Linked DNA regions of Homo sapiens: all the other regions are linked to region 3. Evidence: fine-mapped expression QTL. A gene starts in region 3. Each other region holds a variant in brackets. All regions are shown on one strand. Distances are from middle to middle. Region 1 overlaps CACNA1E (calcium voltage-gated channel subunit alpha1 E). Region 2 has its middle 47 kb from the start of CACNA1E. Region 3 holds the start of CACNA1E (calcium voltage-gated channel subunit alpha1 E). Region 4 overlaps CACNA1E (calcium voltage-gated channel subunit alpha1 E).

What was found. PIP is the estimated chance that this variant, and not a neighbour inherited with it, causes the effect.
Region 1: its variant is the best candidate, but not a certain one, in a credible set for the expression of CACNA1E in whole blood (INTERVAL, PIP 0.82).
Region 2: its variant is the best candidate, but not a certain one, in a credible set for the expression of CACNA1E in testis (GTEx, PIP 0.73).
Region 4: its variant is the best candidate, but not a certain one, in a credible set for the expression of CACNA1E in whole blood (TOPMed, PIP 0.88).

What each region holds. Positions count from the first base shown.
Region 1 is chr1:181,523,111-181,528,259 of GRCh38, reverse strand. All of the region lies in intron 3 of CACNA1E (calcium voltage-gated channel subunit alpha1 E), which reads right to left. Among named protein-coding and RNA genes, the nearest start is that of CACNA1E, 42 kb to the right of the region's middle. The variant C/T (reference allele first, on the strand shown) is at 2,372.
Region 2 is chr1:181,434,166-181,439,314 of GRCh38, reverse strand. It overlaps a transcript of CACNA1E not described here. Among named protein-coding and RNA genes, the nearest start is that of CACNA1E, 47 kb to the left of the region's middle. The variant GTCTA/A (reference allele first, on the strand shown) is at 2,552.
Region 3 is chr1:181,481,276-181,486,424 of GRCh38, reverse strand. It overlaps CACNA1E (calcium voltage-gated channel subunit alpha1 E), which reads right to left and starts at 2,908. Exons shown (of 48, transcript NM_001205293.3): 1 at 2,415-2,908. The coding sequence starts at 2,680. RefSeq lists enhancers at 1,061-1,190, 2,153-2,676, 2,677-3,201, 4,004-4,133, 4,185-4,717 and silencers at 3,554-3,683, 3,724-3,853.
Region 4 is chr1:181,503,131-181,508,279 of GRCh38, reverse strand. The region is part of intron 1 of CACNA1E (calcium voltage-gated channel subunit alpha1 E); the gene reads right to left. Among named protein-coding and RNA genes, the nearest start is that of CACNA1E, 22 kb to the right of the region's middle. RefSeq lists enhancers at 2,786-3,015, 3,436-3,555. The variant G/A (reference allele first, on the strand shown) is at 2,948.

The DNA.
Region 1 (5,149 bases), 42 kb before region 3:
GAAGCAAAAGTGGAAACCCCTGATAAACCCAGCAGATCTCATGAGACTTATTCACTATCATGAGAATAGCATGGGAAAGTCCAGCCCCCATGATTCAATTACTGCCCCCCCCACCCCGGGCCCCTCCCACAACATGTGGGAATTGTGGGAGATACAACAAGTTGAGATTTGGGTAGGGACACAACCAAACCATATCAGAAGTGGAAAGATGGGGAGTAAAATGAAACAGATAAAAAATGGTCTTCACCACAAGAGTTTGATAATCCAGTAGATAATTATAAAAAACTGGTTTAAAAGATGCTGATCAATACAGAAAGAAGTAAGAAGAAAAATGAAGAAACAGTAATAAAGTCTAATAAATAGCAAATAAAATAAAGGAAAAGAATAAAAACAAACCATTTATTACAATAAATATTAAGGTGTTATATTCTCTCAAAAGAGGAAGACTCAGATAAGTAATTGGAAAGCAACAAAAACAACATAGAACTATCATGAGATTTTGATTATATAAGTAGGAAGGCATGGGAAGTAAGTAATGAACTAGAAGGGAAATAAAGAGGATCTATTTACTGAAGGTACATTTAAAACCAGAACTGGAATGAGAATTCAAAAAAGAATACAGAGAGAAAAAGAAGACCATATATATCAGCCAGCATTTTGTTCACAGCCAGCTGATACTGTGCCTTAAAGATATAGCCCTACTTTAATATTATCAAGTGAGTGTAGCTATTCAATTATATTTTGAAACCTGTATCAAGATAAATTAAGCTATAAATACAGATCAAAGATGAAGTGATTCCAGGACTCTAAAGCCCACTGTAATAGACTGAATGTTTGTGTATCCCCAAAATCCATATGTTGAAACCTAATCCCCAATGTGATATTTGGAGGTTCAGCCTTTAGAAGGTATTAGGTCATGAGGACTCTGCTCTTATATGGGATTAGTGTCCTTACAAAAGAGACACCAGAGAGCTCCCTCACCCCTTCTACCATGTGAGGACACAGACAGCTGTCCAGCAGCCAGGAAAGGGGCCTTTGCCAGGCACTGAATCTGCTTTGATCATGGACTTCCCAGTCTCCAGAATGTTGAGAAATAAATTTCTGTTGTTTATAAGCCACCTGGTCTATGATACTTTTGATATAGCTGTCCAAATGGACTAAGAAATTAACTCAAGATTTAGTATGTTCTAGAAGCTAGCATAATCCAGCACAAGTAGCAACAGATTGAAAATACAAGGACAACAACTTCATCCCAGCTAGGGCAAGTTTTTTGTGGGGGCTAGAGTAACCCAGAGAATATATTTGTTCATTATATGCTTCCCTTTCCTCATCAATAAACTATAAAATAGTAGCAGGTACTATTGTTGAAAATCTACTATGTGCAGAGCACTGTTTCAAATGCTCAACATATATCATACCAGTTTAGTCTCATAAAATACTCAGAAATACCCTAAATCCTTCATTTCCCAGTAAGGAAATTGAGGATGAGAGGTTAAATAACTTGCTCAGTGTCACAAAGCCAGAAGCAGACTTCAAATACAGAACTATGTCATGCCAGAGCCTTTGTTCCTTGCATCTTGCCAGGCTGTCCTGTGTTATAACTCTAACCTATTGTTAACAGGCTAAATGGACAATATTTCTAAATTGATTTCAAGATCAAAATGATATAGAAAAACCAATAATCTATTGTTCTCTTAATTCCCTTCAATAGAAGCCATTTTTCCAGTAACTAAAACCAAGTAGTGAGTTTTATATTCCCTTGGATGGATTTTGACATCCAGACCAACAGATACACCCTTTCACTTTTGTTAATTAAGATGCATCAGGAGTAAAAAAAAAAAAAAAAATTCAGACCATGCAGCCACTAGATACATAAATTAGGAAGGCAGTGTAGCATCACGGTCAGAAACCTAAGCTCTGGAGTCAGGCTTCCTCATTGGAATCCTGACCCCACCAACTAACTATTAGCAGCATGATATGGGGGAATTACTGAACCACCTAAGCCCTGGTTTCCTCATCTAGTAGTGATTATAATAGTACCTACCTCACAGGGATGTTGCCAAGAATTTTTTAAAAATCCTTTGAAATGTTTAATGCAGTGATTAGCACTGAACACCAGCTATTAATTAGGTCCACAGTCCTGAATAACTAGGTAATCTCTGCTCTCCTTTCCATTCTTCCCCTCCCTGCCTCCTGACCTAGCATCCCTGCAACAAAGGCCAATTTCTGAATTAAGGAGCCCTTTTCCAGAATTGTGCACTGGAAATATCAAGGAGGCTGAAAAATTTGGGCAACTGCTTTCTGAAACTCCTTTCCTTAGGGCTATAAACCTGAGACCAAACTGGCCTTTTTCCATGGAAAAGGATAGCTC[C/T]CCTAGATCCAATTACCCCACATAGAAGCCATGTCATAAACTGCAACAAGCAGCAACATAATTAACATCCTCAAGGACCACTCCAATCTATGGCCACAATAATAAATCCTTCTCCAAAGACTCGTGACAACCATTTATTTACTACTGACTCTATTTGTTGTAGTTGCACACAGTTCATAACTAAAATTCTGACTTCTCAACCTTCTTTGTGCAGGCTAAGGATAGAAAAGAAATTAGTAAATGGAAAGGTTGGTTTTCCCTCTGAAACTGGCTCCTGATCCTCTGTTTTACTAGACTACAGAGTTTAGAGTTTGACAAATGTTAACCAGTAGTGATATCCAGGCCAACATGGACATTTTATAAATAGCCTCAGCTGGCTGACTACCCCTAGGCTTTGCTATCTTGAAGAGGACAAAAATAAGCATGACAACAAAAATAAAAAAAATATGAAATACACTAATTGTTTCTCATGCTTATCTTCAAAGCTTGATCAAGAGAGGTGGCAACAACAGTTCAATGGCTAGTTACACCAGCATGTAGTGTGTCAACAGCTGCTGCATTAGGGCAAAGTGAAACCACATTCCCAGTGATCTTCCATCTCTTCCCTATTTAACTCTACTGCTGTCCCTCCTACTGCTCACCGCTAGGCCTTACACATGGGACCCATTCAATGAAAGGAGGATAGATGGACAGATAGAAAGCTGATTGCACAGAGTAGAGCACATTTATTCCCAGTTTTTTCTTCTGATCAAATGTTGTCAAGCTCAAATGAAAATCATCTACCTATATATACTATCTACACATCAGACTTAAAGTTCCTTGGGGGCAGGTATCTTATTATTTATCTTTCTAGCCTCAATACTTAGCAAAATGTTTTGTACACACATAGCAAATATTTCTTGACTCAATGGATGTTACTAATAATTAGAAGAAAACATTTATTATATATCTCCTATGCATCTGACAATTTATACTCACATAGATAATGAAGAGATCATTACTGTCCTCCAAAATTGATGCTCTCCTTCCCACAGGGCAAGGTTGTTGCTAGAAGGCAGCTGCCCAATTAGGGATTAGATCTCCCAGTCTCACCTGCAACTAGGCTGAGCCACATGGCTGTTCCTTGTCAATGGGATGTGACTAGAAGTAATGTGTATCAGTTCTATACCAATACATTTAAGGAGTATGCCTTATTCTTACTCTCTCTTTCCACTTCTCTTGAAGGGACATAAACCACGAGATCATAGAGGACAGCAGAGCTACCAGATAGAAGGAGCCTGGGTCTCTACCTCACCAAGTGGAGGGAAGCCAGGAGCACTGTTCAGGACACACTGGCCTGTTCAAGGAGCAAGAGAGAACCTACTATGTTAACCCATTGAAATTTGGGGGGTTATTTGTTAGAGCATCTAGCCCTGCTTAATCTAGTACATAAATCTTGCAAGAGAGGTATTTTAGATTTTAAAAATGAGACTCCTATAGCCTGGACCAGCCAACCTGGAACAAGCTCTGTACGGGTCACATTGTTCCCAGCTGCCTTAGGACCACACATACATTCTATTCCAATTAGATTGCTCTTTTTTAAAAAAGGAAACATACCATTTATTTATAATTATTTCACTTTATCCACAATTTCCCATACAAACATAAAATATAAAAAAATAAAACCACCACTTGGGAATGTGAGTGTCTCTTTCATAGTCTGGTTGAGGGATGAGCATAAGCCCTCTCACTTTATGAAAAGGAAAAGAGTTAGGAATAATGCCTGAGAAATGGCTCTGCATGAGCAACCTAACTCATACTAGTGTGGGGTGGTGGGGCCTCACTGGCAAAGAGACTTGGGGTGTCACCTGCTGGGGACAGCATGGCTTCCCAAAAGGATGACAGCTGCTTGCTCCCAACTCCCAGACCTCCACTACCAAATACCAAAAATCAAACACGGGCCATATATCTCGTGAACTCCAATTAGACTGTTCTGTTCACGAGTGAAGCATTGTATCTAACTTCTACTTCTACTTTCCCCATCACCTCTACACAAGACTGAAGACCAGCTTGACTAAAATCAGGCTTTAGCCACAGGCAAAATGGGGCATACATTGCAGTTCTGGGCCTCATCTCCTTCTTTCATATCAATGGGTTAGTTACACTGAACTAGCAATTCTCATTCTTTCAAGTGTGAGGCTCTCTTTTTAATGTCACAAATTCAAGACCAACCCCATCCCTTGGAGGAGTTATTTCAATTACTATAGCCCCTTAACAACATGGTTAAATAATTGTTATTACCCAGAGCCATTCCTTTTTCTATGCAGATGGAGACATTGAGACTTAACAGAAGCTGGGTCACTTGCCCACAACCACAGTACTAGAAAACAGTAGAGCAAAGATATGAATTCAGGTTTGCTTGTCTATGAAGCCCAAATTCTTAATCACTATGCTATATTGAATAAATTAAAAAAGAAAACAATACTACTCATTCAACAATACTTTTAGATGTATTTATATTTTATAAATCACAACAGCATCCACACACTACAAAATATACTATGTTACATATTTGAGGGAAACTTTATTCAGGAAACAGCCAGTGCTTGTAGGTGACTTCTTGTTGCTTAGAGTTCAGACCAGTCACAGCTGGGGGGAGTGGAAATCATTGGAAGTTCCTCCTCCTTTATTTGCAGTACTAGCTAGTCAAACTTTGACCTGATCAGATTCCCAGTAGGGAGATCCCACCCCAAACTTGAATTTGCTTATTGGAGAAGAAGGACTGGAGGTCAGAGTCTA
Region 2 (5,149 bases), 47 kb after region 3:
AACCTTCTAAAATTTACAGGGAAAATATCTCAAATTTGAAATCTCTGTCTTTAATTTTAGACATATTATTATTCTCTATGTCTGAATTGACTCCAGATGCTACAGGGCTTTTTCCCCCTTCAACCCCCTGCCTAGCATGGGTACCATCTCTGACATATTTAACATACAAACTTAAATATTCAAATATCCAAATCAAATAGGAAAAGTTTGGTAGGTATGTTTTTAACTTAACATATAAGTCATAATATGTTATAAATCTCATCCAGTTCCTATTGTTTTTTACTCAACACTGTTGTGAAAATCTAACCATGCTGCTATATGTGTTTAGGCTGTCGCTTCTCCACTGCATATCCCTCCCATAGATGCTCCACCACACTTTATCTATTCCCTTGGAATGGGTACCTAGGTTGCCTCTAAGTCCCTGCTATCACAAGTAAAATACTACAATGAAATCTTTGTACACATCTTTTCAGAATTTATCTAGGACATATATACCCAAGAGTGGGATTGCTGGATTATAGGTCAGGCACACATTTCACTTCACTAGATTCTTCCAAAATAAGCGTACCAGTTATGCTCCCACCAGTGTACGCGTGCAAATTTCCATCTCCCTCATCAGTGACAAGAGTGGTATGATCCACCTTTCTGAATTTTGCCATTCTCATGGGTATAAATAAATTTCTCCTAATTGTTTATATTTGTATTTCTATATTGGGGATTTCTAGCCTAAAATACCATCTGAATGACAGTCTTTGATTTAGACTTTCCCACTCCCCACCTGATGATTTAAAAAAATAAAAAGGCAAAAGCAAATGGTATTTTTAAAAATGAGAATGGAATTGGAACAAACCTACTGCCCTGAAAGAATTTCCATAAATGCACCATTCCCCATCCACAATTCCAGCTCCACATCATATGGACCTAGGGATTGTACTACCCAGAAAACCAGGAAGTCAACTTCTCTTGCATGAATATAATTTTGGAAGTAGAGAGAATACTTTTGCCCACTCTAGCCTTCAGTTCCTCTGCTTCTAGAGCCATTATGAGACCAAAACTCCTAAGAAAAGGGGCCGGAAGTGAAAGCAGTGGGTGGAAGTGGCCGTGCATATCATGTTCTGAGACATATGCTACTAAACAAGGAGGGCTGAACTGGGCTCAAGACTGGTCCTGGTGACAGCACCCCAAGGGAGTATGGCCACCATTCTCACCACACACCTCCCTTAACTGTTTAGTATAATCTGGAATTGGAGCCACACCATAGATGGTAGTGTCATTTGTGGGGAAAGGAAGACATGAGGAGGAATAGACTGGAGGATGGCATAAGTCAAAAGTTCCTTGGACCTGTTCAGTTGAAGACTCTCATTAGACACCTGAGTTAAGATGTCAAGGGAACAGCTGGATTTCAGCCTCAGGAGCTCAGAGGAGAGATGAAGGCTGAATCTATAAATGTGGGAGTCATTTACATGTGGATTTATGTAAACCTACAAAAATGGGTGAGATCCTGGGAGTGAGCATAGACAGAGAAGAGAAGAGGGCCCAGAAGCCAGCCCTGGGGCACACCTACATCAGGGGTATAGCAGAGGAGCAAGAACCAGCAACAGAGACTGGAATGGGACAGCCAGTGAAATAGGAAAACTAGAACAGCATGCTACCACAAAAGCCAGAGAAGCAAATGCTTCAAGAATGAGAGTCTAAGTACTCTGAGAAGTCAAATCAAATAAAGACAGAGAAAGAACCATGGGACTCAGGAATGTGGGCATCACTAATGACCTGAACAAGAGCAGTTTTTGTGAGCAGACCACCTGTTAGAGTGGTTAGGAGGGGCAGGAGATGAGAAAGTGGGGACAACATTCGCCACTTTTCTGAGAAGTTTTGCTATACAGGAGAGCAGAGAAATGGGACCGAGGATAAAGAGGCGTATGAGGTAGCAAGGATTCTTGTGTTTTGTTCTTATATGTGACATTCTATTGCATGTTTTTACACTGGTGGGATGATCTAGTAGAGCTGGAGAAATTTATAGCACAGAAAAAAGAAAGAATGAGATCAAGAGCAAATGTGGAAAATTTTAAAAGAGAATATAAAACTGTCAGAAGTTAGTCTACACATATTGGCCATGCAGTGAGCACAGAAGTCTGTGGCAATAAGAGGGTGTTGCATGGGCTCCAGGGTGACCACATGTCAGAGAAGCCTCTGGCAAGTGCACAGAGAAATTGCTGTAGTCTCACTAGAAACATGCAGTTATTGACGGCTCTTGGTTTTTCGTGTTTTAATGGATAACATGCTTTTTTGGGGGTTTTCTATTATTTTAATTCATTTTAATTGACATAATAATTGTATATATTTATGGGGTTTAATGTGATGTTTTCATATATATTTAAATTGTAGATTTTACATGATAAAATCAAGCTAATTAACATATCCATCACCTCATATACCTATTTGTGGTGAGAACATTTAAAATCTACTGTTTTCGCAATTTTGAAATACGCAATCTGCTATTATTAACTATAGTAACATGCTGTGCAACAGATCTCTAAAACACATTCCTCCT[GTCTA/A]ACTAAAATGTTGTACCCTTTGAACAACCTCACCCCTTTCTCATCCACCCCCCTCGTCCCCAGCCTCTGTAACCACCATTGTACTCTGTATGTCTGAGTTCAACTTTCTTGGGTTCCACATATAAGTGAGCTCATATGATATTGGCATTTCGGTGCCTGTTTATTTCACTTAGCATAATATGCTCCAGGTTCACCCATGTTGTCACAAATGACAATTTTCTTCTTTCTAAGGCTGAAAGTATTTCATTGTGTATACACACCATATTTTCTTAATCCATTAACCCATTGATAGACACTTAGCTTGCTTGCATATCTTAGCTATTGTGAATAATGAGACAATGAACATGGGAGTGTGGATATCTCTTCAAAATATTGATTCATCTCCTTTGGATATATACCCAGAAGTGGGACTACTGGATCATATGGTAGTCCTGTTTTTAGCTTTTAAAGAACCGCCATACTATTTTCCATAATGGCTGTATCAATTTACATTCTACCAACAATACATAAGAATTTCCTTCTCTCTACATTTTCACCAACATTCATTGTTTGTCTCTTTTATTATAGCCATTCTAACAGGTGTGAACTGATATCTCACTGTGGTTAAATTTGCATTTCCCTGATGATTAGTGATGTTGAGCATCTTTTCATGGATCTGCTGGCCATCTGTGTGTCTTCTTTTGAGAAATGTCTGTTCAGGTCCCCTGCCCATTTTTTAATAGGGTTATTTGTTTTCTTGCTCTTAAGTCGTTTGAGTTCCTCATATCTTTTTAATATTAACTCCTTATCAGATGTATGGTTTGGAAATATTTTCTCTGTGAGTCATCACTTCACTTGGATAACAGATGTTTTAAAGCTGCATTTTATTGCAAAATATCTTGTTATAATGTTAGGTTATTGCACAGTATTTTGTTATCAATTATTGAACTCTTTGGACTTAATATACCTCAACTCCAGAAATATCATTAAGCTGAAAAAAGCCAATCCTAGACATTCCAAGGAAAGGAACTCCTTTGACTGTATTAGTATCAATTTGAGAATTCAGAAAGGTAGGCGGATGCATTCATTCATTCAATAATATATATTGGGAGCCTACTATGTGGCAGACCCTGTCCTAGACATAAATAAATGGCCATGGTTCTGGCAAATAAGTAATTACAATGAAATAGAGTGGTCAGGAAAGTCCTCTGAGAAGAGAGATGTGAGACCAGACCTGAAGGATTAATAAATAAATAAATAAATAATCAGCTACACATAGAGAACAGAATGCAAAGTTCTAGATAGAAGGAACATTCTATGGGGGTGGCTAAAGCTAAGTGTGAGTAAGAGTACAAGGAAATGGTACCTTGCTGCTAGTGGAGGTATAAATGATGAACATTTTCAGTAGGGGGAGCAATTAGATAATTTTCTGTAGTAATTTCACTTCCAGTAATTTATCCTAAGGAAATTCTCAAAACTACAGTCAAAACTGCATATTGCCTCCCTGTAATTCATTCTTCACAGAGCATAGGCAAAGAGAATTTTTTAAAACCTAGATTAGTTTGTTCCAGTGGTGTGCTGGTAAACATTTAACAACTAGCTCTCTAGGGGAAGAGTAGCATCTGCTATAAACTCCTGTGTTATAAATATAGACAGTCCTGGGCTTATGATGGTTTGACTTATGATCTTTTGACTTTAGGAAGGGTTTAGATGGTGTTAAATGCAGTTTTGACTGATGATATTTTTCACTTACAATGGGTTGATCAGATTGTGTCCTGATAAATCGAGGAGAATCTGTAACTGTCTGCAACCCAGATCAAGCCACTTATCAACATGATTTCACTGAATAAGGAGCTGGGAAGAGACGTGCCAAGAGGCTCTCAGAAGCTCCCATGAGCCCGCTCCAGCACACCACTGAGTAGGCATCCCTCCGCTGCACGGAAGCCTCCAGTGCATGTCTCACACCTTGCAATGAAGTCCACAGTCCTCACCCTGAGCTCCGAAGTGTTCCCTGACCAGGTGGCTCCTGCCCACCTCCCGTAGCTCCTCCCACCACACCAAACCCCCTGCGCTCCCTGCTTCTGAATTTTGATTGAACTCCTCAAGTTCACTTCCACTTCAAGGTCTTTAACTTGCTCTTCCCCAGATCTCCCCCTTGTCATTCAGATGTCTGCTCACACATCACCTAACTCAGAAAGCTCCTCGCTGCCCACCCTACCTGAAGCTCAGGGCATCATCTTGTTGTATGTGATTGATAGCCTTTTCCATATCCAAACTTACCCTGCTTATTGATCATGTCTCCCATTAAAATTTAAATTCCATGAGATCAGACACTTGTCTGGTCTTGGTTACCCCTGTAATTTCTAGTATTTAAAAAAAAAAAAAATTGGCCAGTAGTAAGTACTCAATAAATATTTGTTACTGATAAACTGATTAATTTATAATAGTAAAAAAAATTAAGCCACTTAAGTGTCCAAAAATAGGGAAATGGTAAAACTAACATTTATGGATCATTTACTATCTGCCAGGAACTATGATAAGCACTTTATATGTCTCTCTCATTTAATTTGCACAACAGACCTATGAGGTGAGCACTATTATAATCACCACTTTAC
Region 3 (5,149 bases):
GTCACCACCAGAGGGAATATATTAGTCAATTACATTGTACATGGTGTATTTTATATTTTCCAACAGGGCTCCACTAAACACCTTAGCAGATGTTCCCTGAACACTGTTACCACAGCCTACATGCTGTAGAACCACTGTGAAATTTCCAACTATGCAGACAAAAGAGACCATTGGGACAGGGCTCGGGGCCAAGGCACTGAGCATGATGCTGAAATCAACTCCCTCGAGAGTCTCCCGTTTGACTCTCTTTGGTCCATTTTTGGCCAAAGACAAGGAAAGGGAGGAGTAAGACTCACAGCCGCACCTTGCGCGCTCGCAACGCCTGGTGGAAAGGCGGTGTCTTTGCAGCGGAAGAGAAAACGTGAAAAAAGGTGACCACGTGGTGTAGGAAACGTGCCTGGTTTCTCAGCTCCAAGGCTGGGCCCGGCCAGAAGTACCCGAGGTGCTGAACCCGGGTAACTGGGGAGCCCCGGGCCGCCGGGAGTTTCAGCGGCGCTGTCCGAGGTGCCAACGATGGCTGCTGGCACACTTTGCCACCCGCGGGGCGGTTGGGCGGCTTTGTCTACCGCAAAGAAACGGGAGGGCGCCTGTCTGAATAAACACGCCCCTAAGAGAGGGGCACAGCAAGGCAGCACCTGGTGGATGGGAAGATTTAGAGAACCGTAGAAGCCGAGTGAGAAAGGAGGGCCCAGCTGGGAAATCCGTAGACTGCCTAGAGGAATATTTGCAGCCGCAGCACACAACACAATGAGATCTGTCCGCTTTGTGCAGCGCACCGGCAGGCGTGACTGCAGGGACCCGACCCCTCCCCCGCCCGAAACCTCCACCCTAGCTAGATACGTTCAACTCAGGCAATGGATGGCCTGGGATCACTCTGTGAGAGTGGAGCAGGGGAGCGGGATGCAGAGAGGAGAGAGGGAGAAGCCCAGCCGGGGTTGCTGTGGGAGGATGCGAACAGCAGCAGGAAGAATATCTGCTTAGAGATGCTCCTTCGTTTCTAATGAGGGGGTGCTGCCTAGAAGCACCACGCGCCAGCCAATCACCGAGCTGCTGAGGCAGGGAACTAGAGAAGAAGGGGAAGGCCAGAGACTGGGGTTGGGGGAGTAGGGAGATGCCCAGGCCCTGGGGGAAATGAGCCGCGTGTCTGGCTAATACTAGAGACCCAAGGCAGCTCCAGCTGCCTCACTGCTGCACACCTGGACGGTGGGGGTGGGAAAGAGGGAGAATAGGGGAGAAAAGAAGGGGCCTCCATTGCAGATGCATCCCTCCCAAATCTCCCTCCCAAAGTCCCATGTCTCCAACCCCATCCCCATATTTAACGCCAGACCACTAGCTTGCCTCCTACTAATCCCCTTCACTGCCTCACCACCCCCAATTCCCAATGGCCTTGCCAGGCGTCCAATCCTTAGTGAAGAACAAGGCAGTGAGCTGCCTAATCAGCAGTCTGCATTTGGTGCACTTGATTAAACCTGCAAAGAAGCTCCTTCCATGCCTGTTCACCCTGACACCACCACCATCAGAGATGGCCCCCACCAGTGCTTTGGGGAGAGCAGTTCCTTTGGAGCTAGGGAGAGAGAGACTGCATGCACACCTCTGGCCTCAGCGGATGAATTCAGGCCCAGCCGATCCACCTGGATCCTGGATACTGGGAGAGCAATCAGCTGGGTCAAGCACTAAGAAGCAAGAGTACCCAACCAAGGACCAAGGACAGGATGGGCCTGATGAGCTGCTCTTTCTTGGCTGAGAGGAGAACTCCAAGTTTGAGCTCCTTGGGCTGTGGCAACAGAGATCACCTCCCCTGACAGACACTCACTCATGCCACTTTCAGTGGAACTTAAACTTAAGTCCCTAGAGTTAGCTGAGTCCCCACCCAAAAGCCTGTTTTATTTATTCATTTGTCTATCTGTACACAGGGTTTTGGCCCTGGGAACTTCTGAACTGATAAATCCCCTCATGGAGCCTTGACTTCCCTACAGGAAGACAGTGCGGTGTCTCCTGGTTGGTGGGGATACGGGCAGAGTGGCTGGCTTAAAGAAAGGAAAATGAGAATTAATTATGAAAGGAAGCATTGGGGCAACCCAATCTATGTAGAGGGCGGCATGTGAAGGGAGTAGGGGTGGGGAGGGGGCTGGGAATCAGACAAAGCCCAGCCCAGAAAGGGATGCACCCAGGGACACTAAAGATTTCCACATAGGAAAAATAAAAAACCAAAAGTCTTACCTTGAAAAACACTAGTGCCCAAACGGGTCTCCACGGCACCAAGCTTGCCCCTTAGATGCACCGAAGAGTGTGCTTCAGCAAAGGGGCAAATTGGCACCAGGAAGGGGTGGGGGATACATTCCATGCTAGGTACCCCCCTTCACCCGAAGAAATGCAAAGGGGGAGAGGGAGTTATGGTGGGCAAGAAAGGATATGGCCAATCGATGAGCTTCTTGGCATATTTCCTGACAATGTTATCTTCTCCGAAGATGAACAGGGATCTGTTGACGGTGAAACAGTTCTGCCGGACGGGAATGGGGTTGTACAAAGCCATAGTCCGCGCCCTCTGTGCTTTCGTCTGCTTGTAGGCGGCCGCCTGCCCCGAGGCCGGCACGGGGGTTCCTTGCCGGTTCCTGCTCTGGTCCGAGTCTCCATCGCCGGACCCTGGCCTGGCGACCACCGCCTCCCCGAAGCGAGCCATCCTGAGGTTTAAACAGACAGAAGACACACAAAGGTGATCGCGGCCGAACACCCGCACACAGCAACAAGCAGAAAGACACACGGAGACTCAGAGCCGCATCCAGACAAGCACGGGGACCACCGCCTCTGGGGAGCTCCGCGAGCTCTTCGGAGAGGCAGCAGCAGCAGCCCGCCGCTGTGAACTGTTGAATCTAAATGCAACCTCTGCGAAGCTCCATTCCTCAAGAAGGAAAAAAAAAAAAAAGAAAAAAGAAAAAAAAAGCGGGTGGTAGGGCTTGGGGGTGCCCAGTTTCTGGAGGAAAATATTTTTTTCAAAATGCCAGTGTGTGGTGGTGTTCAGGGACCAGAGAGGAGAGGGGTGGAGTAGGCTGCTCTTCAAACATAGCTCCTCTTCTGGCAGACGCACCACCTAGTTCAGGGAGAGAGGCAGGCACCGGCCCGCTAGGTAACAGTTTGGTGATTTATTGGTTGGGGGAAGGGGTGGGAAGGAGGGGAAAATGAAAACAAAAGAACTTTAAAAAAAAATAAACAAAGACGAGGACGGGGTTACGATGACATGCTTTATAACGCCAGCCCCTGCAAGTCCATCTAAGAAATTCCACCGCGAAGACTTGGGTCTTTATATCTGCCAGCAGAGACGCATCCAAAGGTTGGAGAAAGAGGGAGGGAGGTGGGGAGAGCGATATTGAGGTTCCTGCGTAAACCGCAATGCCCAAAATCTCAAAATAAGAAGTCGATCCAAGCGAAAAGGGACAAATGACTTCAAAGCTCCTGCGCTTGGGCTAGAAGTTGAGCAGCATCCAGAGAGCAGCGAAGCCTGAGTGCCAGCATCCGCCCGGAGCGCTCGCCACCGCCGCCTCCCCGGATCAGCATGCAACAGCGATCCGCGGCTGCGCCGCCGAGAGGGCGGGAGTGCGAGCGGGCGGGCGGCGAGCACCGGCGGGCGAGGAACAGGTTGCAGCCGAGCCTCGCGGCGGCCTGGCACCACACTTGTCCACAGACCGAACTTCCTCACTAACGGCTCAGTCTCCCTCTTCCCCGCAGGCAGCGCCCTCGGCGGAGCACTGGAGAAGATGCGGAAGGAGAATGGGGAGGCGAGGCAGAGGACAGCGAGCGGCGCGCAGAGGCGCAGCGAGGCGCGCAAGAGCGCTGGGAGAAGCGGGGGAGGAGCTGGCCAGGCGGGAGGGGCGGGGACGCAGCCGGAAGGCTGGAGGTTCCTGGAAGGTGAGGCTGGCTTGCCTTCTTGATTTATGTGGCCAAAGGGTAGCAGCCACCTCTGCAAAGGTCCAGTGAAGAGTCCCCTTTCCCCCAAGTAATGCCGAGAAGAGAGAGGCAGGTGCAGCCAGCGATGCGGCGGAGTCTCCGCAAGAGAGCGAGGGCCTGGCGTGGGGCGCACACGCACGCGCGTCTTGGGTCCCTGCAGAGAGGTGTCCCCAGTGCTGTGCCCTGTTCGGTGCCGGGAGCGGTGCCACGGGCCCGCCGCCGCCCTAGTAAGGTGTCGGGGCCTTTGCGCGCCTAGCGCCATGGCCGCGTCGCCGCTCCTCCGCACCTCCCAGGCTCCACGAACACGGCCAGGCATTTCCAAGTAGAGGGCAGAACCCTCTCCCCATCTCCCCACTTAGCACCTGGGAGGCCCCGTGGAGGAGGCTAGGACCTCTGGGGGTTCCACACTCTGCTGGTGGTGCTGGCTCCTGGCGGGAGCTTCTGCCCTCACGGGGCGGCCTCCCGGTTCCGCTGTAGGAAAGCCCTGCCCGACGTCTCCTGGAAGGGCCCTCCATGGTGAGTTATGGGCTAAAACTACCCTTCTCGAAATGCGAACAATCAGAAGGATCCTCCCGCCCCCCATCCTTTACTCCCAAATAAGCTCCACGGACTTTCTCAAACCCAACCCATTAATGTAGAAAAAAAAAAAAATAGAATTGGTATCTGAGCTGCAGAGGTGGGAAAGGTGGACTCCAAGCCCCAGGGAAAGAGCTCCTGTTTAGCCGCCAAGCCCTTCCCCACAGGTGACTGGTGGTTTGAACTGAGGGCAGGGACCAGCTGTCCCCTCCCATGTCCACACTAGCTGGGGCACACCGTCTTCTGTGTTTTCCTGCCTTGGCTCAACACATAGGCCTCTCCAAATCCTTCCAACCCGAACAATGGAAGGGAAGAAGGAAAGGAGGGGCTGAGGAAGGAAACAGACACTGACCAAAGCCCAGAGGTTGGAAACCATGGGTGAGTATGGCTTCACGCCTGTGAAGTGAGATTAACTGTTGAGAAGTGAGGTGATGTCTGAGTGCATGGCATGTGTGTTTCTACGGGTATGTGTCTGTCTGTGGGCAAGGCCCTGTGAGCACTGACATGTGTCTGTTGTGTGAGAATGTATGTGAGAGTGTGTGTGTGTGTGTGTGTGTGTGTGTGTGTGTGTAGGAAAATTCTCTACTGGAAATCCAAAGGAATGGTCTCAACATGTCCAGCCTGCTGCCCT
Region 4 (5,149 bases), 22 kb before region 3:
ACCAATGAGAGAAAGCCTGGGTTGGGCAAAGTTAAGCAGGTTTCTCCCCAGCAGGACTTCTTGGGGCCTTTAATACTTTTGCATACAGTGGGCACACACCCCATCACACACACACACACACACACACACACAAGGCGTTTGGGACAGCACACAACATTTCCCAAACTTGCTTCACCTTGTAACTCTTTTTTTCAGAGCATCTCTTTTGAACGGTGTTCCCAGGAACATACCTGGGCAGCCTGACACAAAGTGGGGGTCTGTCTGCCAGTCCCCAAGAGCTGGGGCAGGAGGGATGATGGATCTGACTGGAGTGAAACCAGGGCCTCTTCCATGTCATCCCCTGTCCTGGTTCCTAACAAAAGTGTTCACAACAGTGTGGGGCTCACCTGGTCACTCCTCACAGCTGGAAACGTCTCATGCAATTTCAGACACCTGCTCAGCAGATCCAAGAAGCCCAGTGCCTGCCCTGGAAGGTAGGACTGGGCACAAGTACTTTCTCGTTCAAGCTGCAGACCTCTCGCATTCTAATGGGTCTATGTGGGGTCTATGATTGTTTTGGGGGGTTGAATCTTCTTCCCCTGAAAACCTGAAAGTGATAAGCACAGGCTTCAAAGTAGATGGGTTCTCAGTGCTGAGCCTGCAGGCAAGACAGGTCCTGGCAGCCATGTGCCTCCGAGGCCTCCCCACTCACAATACCCACTTGGACCATGGCAGCTCCTCCACTGCCCCTGACTCTCCACTCACAATATCCCCTTGGACCATGGCAGTTCCTCCACTGCCCCAGCTCCCTGCTTCCACACCCATACCTGCATTTTCCTAGCCAGTTAACCCAAGTATATTGCTCCCTATAAGGACCTTTAAGCTCAACTAGTCCAGAATGTCCAAGGGCAGATATGTGAGGTTTGTGGGGACACAGGCTAGCTCAGGAAGGTGTAGCCAACACCACCGGAAGATGCTCCAGGCAGCGGAATGGCTCTTGGCCCAGGTGCTGATGAGTCAAACTCCCAGTGACTGGCCAGGTATCTGGGTGGCTGAGAATTCATGAGGTCTTGATGGCTGGTGCTACCCAAGGCCCTAAAGTCTAGAATCTAAAGGTGGGAGTTTGGTAATTCACAGGTTCTAAGAAGACCCTATTCTCACTTCCTCTCCAGCCAAATCCTCTTCCCACTATCTGATGTGAGGCCCATTCACAGCAGCAATCTTCTGGCTTAAAAATATTTTTTTTTTTGCTTTACATTTTTAAAATTGTTCAGATATATATGCCCTTGAGAGGGATGTCCCTTTCAGCCTTATAGGGCATCTAGACCTCAGGATGAATTCATGGCTGCGGTAATGAAGAACCTGCAGTGAGAATGTGGAGATTCTGTGTAACTGTGGGCTAGGTGAAAGAATGGATAGTGGCAGGGAAATCTCAGGGGAGGTGAGCAGAAGAGACCATCCAAGTCTGCCTAGGCCCCAGCCACTCTCCCTTACAGCCCTGTTCTTTAAACTCTTTTCCACTTCCCTTTCTGAAGAAAGCACAAAAAAGAGGCATTTACATCTAGGTGCTTCTGCCACCACATGCAATGGCGTTTCTTCTCCTTTCCAGTCATACATCAAGACCAAGCTGAAATGCCACCTTGTCAGTGAAAGTTTCTCCCCGTGCCCCACAGCTCTTTGAATTGTGTGACTGTATTATTTCTTCTCCTATTTAAATCAAGAAACTATATCTTGAAAGCAGGAGTTTTGCTCATGTCTCTACTGGCAGTGCTTAGCAGAGCCCATGGTATATAGTAGGAGCTTAGTCAATGTTCAATGCAGGTAAGAATGAACATGAGGCATTCACTAAGGAGCCATTACAAAGACAGGGCTTTGCTCACCCACTCTGGCCTGAGCCATGGCTCCTGCTCACTCCCACCCTTGCAGGCTGCCTCCGAGGCACCACTCCCATTTCTTCCCGACAGCAAAACTTCACACCCCAAAGCAATGGCTCTGCTACATCCCCAAAGTGAAGAGCCTAGACGGCAAATAACACCCACCCACCAGTCAAGCTAGTGCCCCTCAACCTGGCAGACTGGACAAAGACATGACTTAGAAAGGTCAAAGGGAGCTCCGAGTCGCCACGGCCTCAAAGACCATCACCCTTCATGGCAACCACAATCAGGGACAAGATGGAAGTCTGTCCAGGACTCTGACTCTCTGTTCTAGAATTCAGTGACACTCATTACACTCTGTGCCTGACACTGTGCATATTTTAGGGAAGAATATCTATCCCTGGTATCCAGATTGCTTGTGTTTTGAAATCTTGAACAAATGGAGATGATGGGGCAGTAAGGACTGGGAGCCCCAGGGCAGGACCTTGCCTGCCTCACTCACCACTGTACTTGGCACACAGTGGGGCCCCGGTAACTGTTATTTTATTAATAAATTAATATTCAATTGATAAATGAATCATACAGGGAAACTAGAGCCAGAGGTATCCTTACAAAAGGTACCCACACTCTCCACACTGTATACCCATTTGAACTTTTTATACTGTCCACTGTAGACACACATGACCTATTTAAAAAAGAAAATAAACCAGCATACATGGAAGATCCCTTTCATGTTTAAAAAAAAAAAGAGAAGGCCAGGTGCGGTGGCTCACGCCTGTAATCCCAGCACTTTCAGAAGCCGAGGTGGGCAGATCACGAGGTCAGGAGATCAAGATCATCCTGGCTAACACGGTGAAACCCCATCTCTACTAAAAAAAATACAAAATGTTAGCCAGGCATGGTGGCACGCACCTGTAGTCCCAGCTACTCAGGAGGCTGAGGCAGGAGAATGGCGTGAACCTGGGAGGCAGAGCTTGCAGTGAGCTGAGATCGTGCGACTGCATTCCAGCCTGGGCAACACAGCAAGACTCCGTCTCAAAAAAAACAAAAACAAAAAAAAAGAGAAGGGAGAGAACAAGAAAAAATTCTGTCTT[G/A]CTGGAAGGATGATGAGTCTTCTCTCGGTAGCAGGGTTATTTTCACTTTCTTCTTTACTCCTCTAACCATTTTCTGAGTGTTCAAATGAGCATGTGTTCATTTATCACTACAAAATCAATTAAAGCTATATGTATCCTGAAAAGAACAAATCAACACAAAAACCCATCCCAACCTGAGAGTGAGGAGGAATGCGATGGCCAGAGAAATCAGAAAAAGACTTCGGAGAGGATTAAATGCAAGAGAATGAAGGGACCTGGCCAAAATGAGGAAATGACCATGAAACCACTTTGAAACTTGCAAAAGACATCTTCCTTCCTGCCTTCCCTCCTGTACCAGCTCACTGCTCACTAGAGGCCTCATTTCATAAACTTTACTGGCAATCTCCTCAAACACCCCTTCACTCCTCGTTCCCTCTGAGCCCATTAATGAGGACCTGTGTTGCTCCAACTCTCTTTCTAGTCTAGCAGTTTCAAGACAATCATTAGGGAAATGATAAAAATAGGTTCACTTATTGATTTATCTCCTTTACCCAATGCTCCTTCCTTTGAATGGTTGACTTGTTTCCTTAGCAACATGGCTAATTTGAGCAGCACGACGTGGCCTGCACACCTGCCATTTGTTCATTTCCTTCTTGAAGCACAGAAAGCTGGGGCAAGGGTGGTGATGCTGGTTCTGCTGTCACCGGAGCCCTGGGGGCCTGGCCTGGAGCTGAGCTCTTCATCTGCCTGAGCCTGAAAAGCCTCCTCATCATCACCTCTCAGGTACAGATCTGTAGGTACATGCTTGGGAAGGACTTAGGCCTCAGGCAGTAAATATTGGGTGTCCCCAGGCAAACATGCATCTCTATCACCACCAGGGGGCTCATCCTGAAGACCTCTGTACTTAGCTGTCTCCTCCCAGAGCCTATGACATCCGAACACTAAGAAGGCCATGCTCTGACAGGCAGGCAGATAGAATGCTGTGCACTCTCCCAACTTCAGCCTAATGCAGAATATGCTTTTGTGGGGAGCAGTCGGTGGGCACTCAGGCACTTCCTGGAAACTCCTGGGGGGGTATAGAAGAGTCCACAGTCTGAGGGGAGGCATTCCTCAGCCTCCTTTACCCATTTCCACCCCTCACCCCAGACCCTACAGGAAGACCTGTCTCCTTTTCTCCCTTCAGTCTCATGTTTTTGGATGTCTAAATCCAAGAGATGTAACAGCCTCAGAGGATGGCATGGACACCTTCATGCATGTCTTTCCACCTCTTCTTCATGTGCACATAAATATCATCCTAATAAGTGGACTTTGACTCAAAGACAGTAACAGAGAAAGAGCCTTAACTAGTCTGTGATTCCCTATTAGCATGACACCAAATAGACATTTTACATATGAACAGGAATGAAATACAGCTATCCAAGCCTTCCGTGTAACTTCAGAATCTTCTTCAAGACCTGGAATGCAATGGAAAAAATGTAGCTTGGTAAAGGAAACCAGAGCCAGGCCTCCGACTGCAAAAGCTGTCCCAACACAGTACTCAAGAGTCAATGAAGGGTTATGACCATCCATTCCCACAGAACCAAACAAGAAATACAAAAGGACTGAAGCCTAAAATGATACCGGAATCTGAACTCCCTCTGAAAACTGTAAAGTGTTGCACAAATACAGTTACTTTCAGTATCCTACTAACTCAATCTTTCAGCATCTACTGTGGCTCAATACTTTGGGGAAAGCATCTGTTGGTGGTTACAGCCTCCAGCCCTCAGGAGTGGGCTGGCTGGCTGTAGCCATGGACTGACACAGAGGAGACCAACTCCAATAAAGGATTTAAAAGAAAATTATGGTAATGGGCCTCCAGGAAAAGAGCAAAGACATTTGGCCCAGAACCTCCTGAGAATATGGAAAGCGCATCCAAACACCAGTCCCCAGAGGAGGATTTATGAAGCTGATGGCTCTGATGCAATCTCTCCCAGTGATTAGAAGGGATATTAATCACACCCCAGGCCAGGGCTAAGAACAGGAGGGGTTGAACCATCACAGAAGTCTGGCTCCAGTTCCCACAGACCCTGATGGAAATGCAGTGAGATCATGCTGGTGAGATCATATGACCCTCGTCTGAGCCGACTGAGAAAGATACATCTGTCCTGGAGGGACGAGTAATGCCGAAGACATAAGACCTTGTGCCTAAAACCCAGACATAGCAATAGTTATGACCATCACTTC